Linked DNA regions of Homo sapiens: all the other regions are reported to be linked to region 1. The links are microRNA targets in miRTarBase. Many come from high-throughput screens and were not tested one by one. Region 1 holds a microRNA gene; each other region holds the end of a gene's coding sequence.
Evidence for each region. The annotated mature microRNA hsa-miR-766-3p reads ACUCCAGCCCCACAGCCUCAGC and lies in region 1 at 2,042-2,063, shown strand. An mRNA with a match to its seed (bases 2 to 7 or 8) in the 3' UTR can be bound and repressed. Matches are read on the target gene's strand: a 7mer-m8 pairs with bases 2 to 8, a 7mer-A1 pairs with bases 2 to 7 and ends in A, and an 8mer does both.

Region 2: miRTarBase lists HRNR as a target of hsa-miR-766-3p. The part of its 3' UTR that is shown has no 7-base or 8-base seed match.
Region 3: miRTarBase lists GPR75 as a target of hsa-miR-766-3p. The part of its 3' UTR that is shown has no 7-base or 8-base seed match.

Annotation. Positions count from the first base shown.
Region 1 is chrX:119,645,663-119,648,825 of GRCh38, reverse strand. It overlaps MIR766 (microRNA 766), which reads left to right and starts at 1,978; the gene lies at 1,978-2,088. All of the region lies in intron 5 of SEPTIN6 (septin 6), which reads left to right. RefSeq lists an enhancer at 745-924.
Region 2 is chr1:152,210,196-152,213,358 of GRCh38, forward strand. It overlaps HRNR (hornerin), which reads right to left. Exons shown (of 3, transcript NM_001009931.3): 3 at 1,881-3,163. The coding sequence ends at 2,881. The region is part of intron 1 of CCDST (cervical cancer associated DHX9 suppressive transcript); the gene reads left to right. Among named protein-coding and RNA genes, the nearest start is that of HRNR, 12 kb to the right of the region's middle.
Region 3 is chr2:53,850,451-53,853,613 of GRCh38, forward strand. It overlaps GPR75 (G protein-coupled receptor 75), which reads right to left. Exons shown (of 2, transcript NM_006794.4): 2 at 2,462-3,163. The coding sequence ends at 2,684. All of the region lies in intron 1 of GPR75-ASB3 (GPR75-ASB3 readthrough), which reads right to left. Among named protein-coding and RNA genes, the nearest start is that of MIR3682, 2.8 kb to the left of the region's middle.

The DNA.
Region 1 (3,163 bases):
TGGGTATAGCCAAACTCAGGAAAGCCTTGTAATAAAAGCCATTTTTAGAAAACTTTCCTGCTGCCACTGCCCTCTAAGTTATCATTACAACTTCAGCTGCCACCTCCTATGAATTGGCCAACAAATTAGCATAGCAGGGCAGCAAGTCATTGTCTCTCCTGACTTCCTGTCCATCAGTACACCCGAGATGTGTTTGTTATCACCATCACCATCTTAGACAAATCTGGCTCAAGGGTAAGGCTATCTGGAGCATGGTAGGTAGAGATAGGTCTTCTCTGACCGGCCGTGGGCATGGAAAAAATAAAAAAGATTAGCACTTGTCCTCTCGAGAAGTCAGGGCATTTTGATGGAAACTAGGCTCTGTTATGAAGAGACAGCCTAGTCTGCAGAAAAACGGGAGCCTCGCGAGAAGTGTCATCTGGGTGCCACGGGCACTGATGTCTGGAAGCGTCTAGTCACCTCAGGACATCAGTCCCCATAGAGACCTTCTGAACACTGATGCCCTAAGTCATCAAGCAGCTTGCAGGCTTGTGGTTTGCTTTGCTAAGAATAAATAGGGACTGAGAGTACTCAGCCATCTCAAGGTGTCACACAGAACCACATCTTGGTACCTCATGGATTAGGAGTGATAATCATCCTGGGCTCTGTTCTCAGCTCAGCTCTGGCCTCCTGCTAAGCCTAGGGTAGGCTCAACCTCAAGGCTGGAAACCCCCAAGCTAGGCAGCAGCAGTTGTCAAGCATGCTGTTATGGCTGTGAAGGGATTCTGGGTCCTTTATTACTCATAATTGTGTTTCACTTTGAGAAACAAAATTCGAGGCTGAACAACATAGTGAGACCTCATCTCTACTGAAATTTAAAAAAAATTAACTAGTGGCCGGGCGCGGTGGCTAACGCCTGTAATTCCAACACTTTCGGGGGCCAAGGCAGGTGGATCACCTCAGATCAAGAGTTCGAGACCAGCCTGACCAACATGGAGAAACCCCGTCTCTAGTAAAAAGACAAAATTAGCCAGGCATGGTGGCGCATGCCTGTAATCCCAGCTACTCAGGAGGCTGAGGCAGGAGAATCGCTTGAACCCAGGAGGCAGAGGTTGCAGTGAGCTGAGATCTCGCCTTTGCACTCCAGCCTGGGCAACCAGAGCAAAACTCCATCTCAAAAAAGAAAAAATTAACTGGTGCTGTGGCGCACACCTGTAGTCTCAGCTACTTGGTCGGTGGGTGGCCTAAAGTGGGAAGATTACTTGAGCCTGGGAAGTTGAGGCTGCGGTGAACCCTGATCGAGCCACTGCACTACTGCAGGCTGGGTGACAGAGCAACACCCTGTCTCACAAAAAAAAAAAAAGAGAGAGAGAAAGGAAAGGAAAGAAAAAGAAAGTAAATAAAGAGAGAAAGAGAGAAAGAAATAAAAAGGAAGGAAGGAAGGGAGGAGGGAGGGAGGGAATTCCAGTGGAAGGAAGGAAGGAAGGAATGGAGGAAGGGAGGGGAGGGGAGGAGAGGAGAGGAGCAGGGAATTCCAGTGGATTCAGGATTATCCCTATCATAAATCACTCACCACTTACTCCCTTGCATCCTACTGTGCTTTGTTTTTTTTTTGAGACAGGCTCTCACTCTGTCGCCCAGGCTGGAGTACAGTGATGCAATCAATTTCAGCTCACTGTAGCCTCCACCTCCTGGGTTCAACTAATCCTCCTGCCTCAGCCTCCCGAGTAGCTGGGACCACAGGCATGCACCACCATGCCCGGCTAATCCACTATGGGTTTTTTTTGAGTGGGAAAGAGAGGAGTGGCCTCACAGCTAGTGTGCCTGAATTGGCATGCCTGTGAGAGGAGCTTGCATGTGAGTGTTTTGTGTTACATGCGCTGTGATGGGAAAGAGGGTGCTATCAAATATACACAGAGGATTGCTTAGCCTGCCTGCCACCGAACAACTATGTCAAAAGTCCCCAGAGTCTTCACACAAGCCGTGGTGTATGAAGCTGCATCCTCAGGACCTGGGCTTGGGTGGTAGGAGGAATTGGTGCTGGTCTTTCATTTTGGATTTGACTCCAGCCCCACAGCCTCAGCCACCCCAGCCAATTGTCATAGGAGCTGGATTGGAAGAAGCGGAAGAAATCTGTTGCCTGAGTGGAGAAGACTGTACAATGTCCTGTCTCTCACCATGGGGGATTTTTGTGGCAGGAAATGAGAGTAATGAGGTCCCTGCCACCACCTTGAATTATGGGTGGCTCCAGAAAACCTTATTGTAGATTGAGGGGGAAGAGAAGGGAGAGCGAGGTCTTGTTGCATGCTATTTTCAACCCATGCTCTGATATCTCTCAAGGTTGTAGACTTTAATACTAAGAATTGCTATGTTATTTTAAATTTAATGATGTTCTTTGAATGGCTGAAAGCATGGCCAGGACCAGCAAAAAGGCCCAGTTACTTAATTGACTGAGCTCCATTAATTGTCCATTTGTGAGGTCTGGGGTTTGGTTCCCACAAAGGCAATTGACATTTGGGCCCAGTGAGAACACATGGCTGAACAGTAGGGTCATAGGAAGACCCACAGGCACAAGTCCATCCCTTCCTCTGAGACAGCAATGGTATTTCCATTGTTGCCATGTACTTTTACAGGAATCACCAGTGGTTGACTTGAGAGCAAATCAGCCAATGGTCTTGTTCAGTCACCAGCAGGGGCCTGAAATGGGGACTAACATAACTGGGAAACACTGTCCACCCTGGGAGGAAACCAAGCCCAATCAGAATATTATCATTAGATGAGGAATAAAGAGTTCTGACAGTGTGTATTTCACTGGGCTAAGCAGTCACCTAGCCTCCCAAGTATAATGGATGTGGTGAAATAAGAATAAAGTAACTCACGCCAATTGGATTATTAAGTACTTTACAATGTACAAGAAGAATTTAAGTTAGACACAAGTCAGTAAAGGTGGTGCTATGGTTTGATTGTGTCCCCTCCAAAATTCAGGTGTGGCCAGTATGATAGTATTAAGAGGTCGGGGCTGGGTGCAGTGGCTCACACGTGTAATCCCAGCACTTTGGGAGGCCAAGGTGGGCGAATCACAAGGTCAAGAGATCGAGACCATCCTGGCCAACATGGTGAAACCCCGTCTCTACTAAAAATACAAAAAATTACCAGGCGCAGTGGCTCATACCTGTAATCCCAG
Region 2 (3,163 bases), not on the chromosome of region 1:
TGAGATGAAACTCCTCCCCTTCTGTATCTTGGTGGCTCACATAATGCCAGCACTTTGGGAGGCCGAGGCGGGCAGATCACCTGAGGTCAGGAGTTCGAGACCAGCCTGGCCAACATGGTGAAACCCTGCCTACTAAAAATACAAACATTAGCTGGATGTGGTGCTGCCTGCCTGTAATCCCAGGAGACTGAGGCAGGGGAATCACTTGCACCCACGAGATGGAGGTTGCAGTGAGCCGATATTGTGCCACTGTACTCCAGCCTGGGCAACAGAGTGAGACTGTCTCAAAACAAAAAACAAAAAACAAAAAACAAAAAAAATTCGTGTGTCAAGTTGCACAGAAAGCCTTTAAACAATCAACTTTATTGAGATATAATTTCCACATAATATGTACGATTATGTAAGTTTTGACAAAAGTATATATATATGTAACTACCATTATAATCTACATATAGATTTATTCCATCACCCTAGAGTGTTCCTTTGTGACTCTTCCAGACAGTTCACAAGTTCTACTCCCAGCCCTAGTCAACCACTGATCTACTTTCTATTTTTATAGATTAGGTTTGTTTTAGTAAGTTTCATATAGATGGAATCATAAATATGTACTCTTTTGTGGATGGCTTCTTTTGATCAACGTGTTTTTGAGATTCATCTGTGTTACATGTATCAGTAGTTTATTCTTTTTTTCCTTGCTAAATAGAATTCCATTGTATAGCCATACCACAATTTGTTTATCCAGTCATCTGTTCGTGGACATTTGGATTGTTTCAAGTTTGGGGCTATTATTAAAGCTGCTATAAACATTCATGTAAAAATCTTCAATGTAGACATACGTTGTCATTTCGCTTGGGAGTGGAATTGCTAGGCCCTATAGTAAAGTACACAATCGTGTTGCTTAACAATGGGGGATATGTTGTGAAAAATGCACCCTTAGGCAAACATCAGAGAGTGTACTTACACAAATATAGATGGTATAGCCAATAAACAACTAGGCTATATGGTATAGATTATTGCTCCTAGGCTACAAACCTATACAGCATGTTACTGTACTGAGTACTGTAGGCAACTAACACAATGGTAAGTGTGCATCTAAATGTATCTAAACATAAAGAAGGTACAGTAAAAATATGGCATAAAAGATAAAAAAGGTACACTTGTATAGGGCACTTACCATGAATAGAGCATGTAGGACTAGAAGTTGCTGTAGGTGTCAGTCAGTGAGTGGTGAGTGAATGGGAAGGCCTAGGACATTACTGTATACTACTGTAGAGTGTGTAAACACTATACACTTGAATTACACTAAATTTATAAAAGAATTTCTTCCTCCAGTAAAAATTAACTTTAGCTTACTGTAAATTTTTAGGTTTATAGACTTTTACATTTTTAAACTTTTTGACTCTCTTAATTAACACCTAGCTTAAAGCACGAACACATTGTATAGCTGAACACAAATATTTTTTTCTTTACATCATTATTCTGTAGGCTTTTTTCTGTTTTAAATTTTTTTAAAAAACTTTTTTTGTTAAAAATTAAAACTAACACTAAAAAGTTTTTGTTAAACCAAGACAAATATCGCCTTCTACCTCCATATGTTGTCTCCCTCTAAGGGCTTCAGGGACAATAAAATGTATGGAGCTGACAGCTCCACATTATTGTGTGTGATTTTGGTGTCATATCAAAAAAATCATTGCCAATACCAGTGTGATGGAATTTTGATCATTTTAAAATGAAGTAGTTTGTCTTATTGAGTTTTAAGAATGCTTTATCTATTCTTCATTGTGAAAAATAGAATATTGGGAAATCGCTGTTTGGTTTGGTTTCTAGGATGACCATCTGTATGTAAGAAGTGAAATGAAGCACAGATGAGAAAAGTCTTAGTATTTAATCAACATTTATTTATTGTCAATTTTAATACAATCCGGTTGTTTGAATCCAAAGACTTGAAACAAATGTGTTACAGTCAAATTAAGGAACTATGTAGCAGTGACAGATACTCTTCCTTTTCATCTGGGCATGGATGATATTTTTTCAGGTGGAAACGTTATTGAACTACAGTAGTAGGTGGAAAGCATTGTATTTCCATGGAATAACTCCTCAATATATTTCCCAATATTGAGCAGCCTCTTAGAAATAGGGAGCAAGATCTTTCTGCTGAAAACAAGCTAAAGCCCACATTTGAATGTTTTTTTTTTTCCTGAAATGATAAATCCCTATTCTTTATGAAATAATGCTCTTGCTCACTGGCTTGGGAAAAGACCCTGATGCTACTTTTTTATGCCACTAATTAACTTACTGATTAAATATATACCCAAGAAAAAGGACTTGATGGTTTTGATAAGTAAAGACACTACCGCTGCTGCATCTTTGCTTTCAGAGCCTTCACCTTCTGCCACAATACCAAAAATTGGGACACACCAAACTTGGGGCACACTAAAAATTAGGGTACACTAATTGCTGTAAAACAAAGCTTTGTATCTAGGACTGGTAATGCATTTGTAATATTTTGCTTCTAAGAAATGTAAGGTTAGCTTTGGCACCATCTATAAATGAATGATGAGCTCTCAAAAAGACAACTCCAACTAAACCCAAAGCTCTTTAAAAGCTTTTCATTATTCCTCAAAGTTTAACCCTCATTCTAACAAGTTATTCCACTCAGTATTTTCTAACAAAGTAGCACAAATGCCTAACAGTCTTTGGAAGGAACCCCATAACAAGATATATGCTACAGTTTTAGGCTCTAAAGAAAGAGACAGAAATGCATTGATTCACTTTTAGAACGAATTTCATGATGGATTGCTTGTCTTTCATGATGAATTCATAGATGACTTTCCTATTTCTTAAATTGCTACTTGAGTAAATTGCATTTATGTTTATTATTCACTGATAAAAGTAGCACCTCTGCTCTTGGACATATTCATAGGGTGAAGTGCTACTAGGAAAACTGAGAAAATATGAGCCAGAACTTCCCCCATCATGGTTACTTCCTCCTTTGCAATAAGAATACCCATCTTGCCCTGAGCCACTTCCATGCTGACTATAACCAGAGGACTGTCCTGAGCCAGACCCATGTTGGCCGTAGCTGGAAGACTGCCCTGAACCAGACCCGTGTCGGCCGTGGCTAAGAGACTGGCCAGATCCAGCCCCATGTCGGCCATAGCCA
Region 3 (3,163 bases), not on the chromosome of region 1:
GGGTGGATTACTTGAGGCCAGGAATTCAAGACCAGCCTGGCTATCATGGTGAAACCCTGTCTCTACCAAAAATACAAAAATTAGCCAGGAGTGGTGGCGGGCACCTGTAATCCCAGCTACTCTGGAGGCTGAGGCAAGACAATCGCTTGAACCCGGGAAGCGGAGGTTGCAGCGATCTGAGATCATGCCACTGCACTTTAGCCTGGGTGACAGAGTAAGACTCTGTTTCTACAAAAAAAAAAAAAGACTTTTACGCAAAGGAACAAAGTACCTTCCAATCTGCAATAATAACTCTTGAATATAACAATTTATAAAGATAGGTGTTGTATATTGATGCTCATCTTGTGTGTCTAACATTTAAAAACCTAGTGAGTTCAAATACTAACTGTATACTGAAAATATTTTTACAATAAAATATGAGTTCACAGTTGTTATGCTAGGAATCTCAGAGCATATAGTAAAATTAGTTTCAGGTATAGAAATACTTAAATCTATTTTTTCTTTCTGCCCATTTCCACTTTAAGATTAATGGGAGAGAAATAAAATGATTAGTTTGAAAATAGATTATCTTGAGAATTTTTCTACCATAATAATAAATAAAGACAAAAAAGAAGTCATTTCTAAATAGTTACTTGAATACTGTCAGGTGGTTAGTAAACTCTTCTCACACAGAAGGAAAACATAAATCAAAACATTCCCAGTCTTATCTGTAAACCTTGTTAAGCAATAATAAATATTGCCCAATGCATGACAGGAGTCCACACTGTTTTCCACAGAACACCGAGATGATTACCGCAGTGCCTTCTCTCCTGGGAACAGTGCACCTCTACCATAGATGCAGTCCTCTTCACTAGGCTTCTTGAATAAGATCATTCAGAAACAATTCACTTTTGGGCCAGTTGGGGTGGCTCATGCCTGTAATCCCAGCACTTCGGGAGGCCGAGGCAGGCAGATCACCTGAGGTCAGGAGTTCAAGACAAGTTCAAGACCTGTCTCTACTAAAAAATACAAAAATGAGCTGGGCATGGTGGCACACGCCTGTAATCCCAGCTACTCAGGAGGCTGAGGCAGGAGAATCACTTGAGCCCGGGAGGCGCAGGTTGCAGTGAGCAGAGATCATGCCACTGCACTCCAGCCTGGGCAACAGAGCAAGACTCCCTCTCAGGAAAAAAATAAATAAATAAATAATTCACTTTTAACAAGCAAAAATATATTTCTTTTCTTTCTTTCTTTCTCTTTTTTTCATTTTTTTGAGATGACATCTCGCTCTTGTCACCCAGGCTGGAGTGCAATGGCACGATCTCAGCTCACTGCAACCTGTCTCCCAGGTTCAAGCGATTCTCTTGCCTCAACCTCCCGAGTAGCTGGGATTACAGGTGCTTGCCACCATGCCTTGCTAATTTTTGTGTTTTTAGTAGAGACGGGGTTTCATCATGTTGGCCAGGCTGGTCTCGAACTCCTGACCCTCAGGTGATCCACCCGCCTCAGCCTCCCAAAGTGCTGGGATTACAGGTGTGAGCCACCATGCCCGGCCCAAATATATTTCTTTTCAAAAGAATTGTAAACCTACTCAACTGACATAAAACATGTCTATAATAAGAAATGGCAATAATCATAATACTATATTCTTAGTTGACTGTCCTATGAAAGAAAAGTACCTAATACCTGTGTGAGTGTTTTTGGTAAAGACAGAGTTATCACCTTTTCTGCCTTAAGAATATATATATTTCTGGCTAAGCACAGTGGCTCATGCCTGTAATCCCAGCACTTTGGGAGGCCGAGGCAGGCGGATCACCTAAGGTCAGGAGTTGAAGACCAGCCTGACCAACACAGAGAAACCCTGTCTCTAATAAAAATACAAAAATTAGCCGGGCATGGTGGCATGCGCCTGTAATCCCAGCTACTTGGGAGGCTGAGACAGGAGAATCACTTGAACCCGGGAGGTGGAGGTTGCGGTGAGCCGAGGTCATGCCATTGCACTCCAGCCTGGGCAACAAGAGTGAAACTCCGTCTCAAAAAAAAAAAAAAAAAAAAAAAAAAAAAAAGAATATATACATTTCCTTTAGAGACAGGGTCTTGCTGTGTTGCCCAGGCTGGACTCATAATCCCGGGCTCAAGTGATCCTCCTGCCTCAGCCTCCCAAGTAGCTAGGACTACAGGTGCATGCCACTGCACCCAGCTAACAATATATTATTTATTCAAATCAACCTGCTACCAACAAGGTGTAGTGTTCCCGATTTCAACACTTCAAAAAATCAAAATTTACAATTCAATTAATAAAAATAACACCTCAGCAAAAATCATATTTTCACATTCTTTAAAAAAAATCCAGTCAATACCTTATTTTGAAGTCACATAACACTGACTCAAATCATGATAATCGGTTGACTTTCTACTTTAACACAGTAGCTTCATTCCTGGCATCTATTTAAAGGCTCGGTACAAAAGACTGAGGCAAAGAGCAGGGTAAAAAATCTAAAACTTTCACATCAAATCTTAAGATGTCAACAAACTACAAAGCAAATCAACAGATACTGACACATCAGATGAAAGAAAACCATAACTGCCAACTTTTCAGTTGAATCTTGTAGGTTTTGATCCGCCACTGATCTCAAGTTAGAATAAAGTCCATTACTATCAGAAACAAAAACTGTTTACATAAGATCCTATAGCCTCCATGACTTTAAACGGAGGGGACTGGAATCTGCTTGGCTGAAGTGCTGTCATATTCCTGCACTAAGTCATTAGTGGTGTGATAATGCATGGCAATATATGAATTGGCAAATCCAAAAGAGTTTACTGGCTGTAAGTTACATGGGCTGCTCTCCTCCTGGGAAGGGCTGCTGTTATAGATGCTGTAGTAAGGTTCAATCCGAGTGTTGATGGGGGTCGAGCTGCTCTGACCACAGTGTTGATGTCCAGCAGAGATCTTGGGACTCACCATACTTTCTTTTGAATGACTTGGGCCACAAGCCTGGTCCACAAATTTCTTCTGTGGCTTTGGAGATAACATGTAGGCAGAGTTTGTTTCATGATGGGAGGATTTGTTTCTGTTGACTTCGAGGTTCCCTTTTCCCATGGCTCGAAGTCGAGTCTTTTGTTTGCAGCAGAAAAAACCCAGGCCTATGTATTGGAGGCACCAGAGCACTTTCCTTCTCAGCCC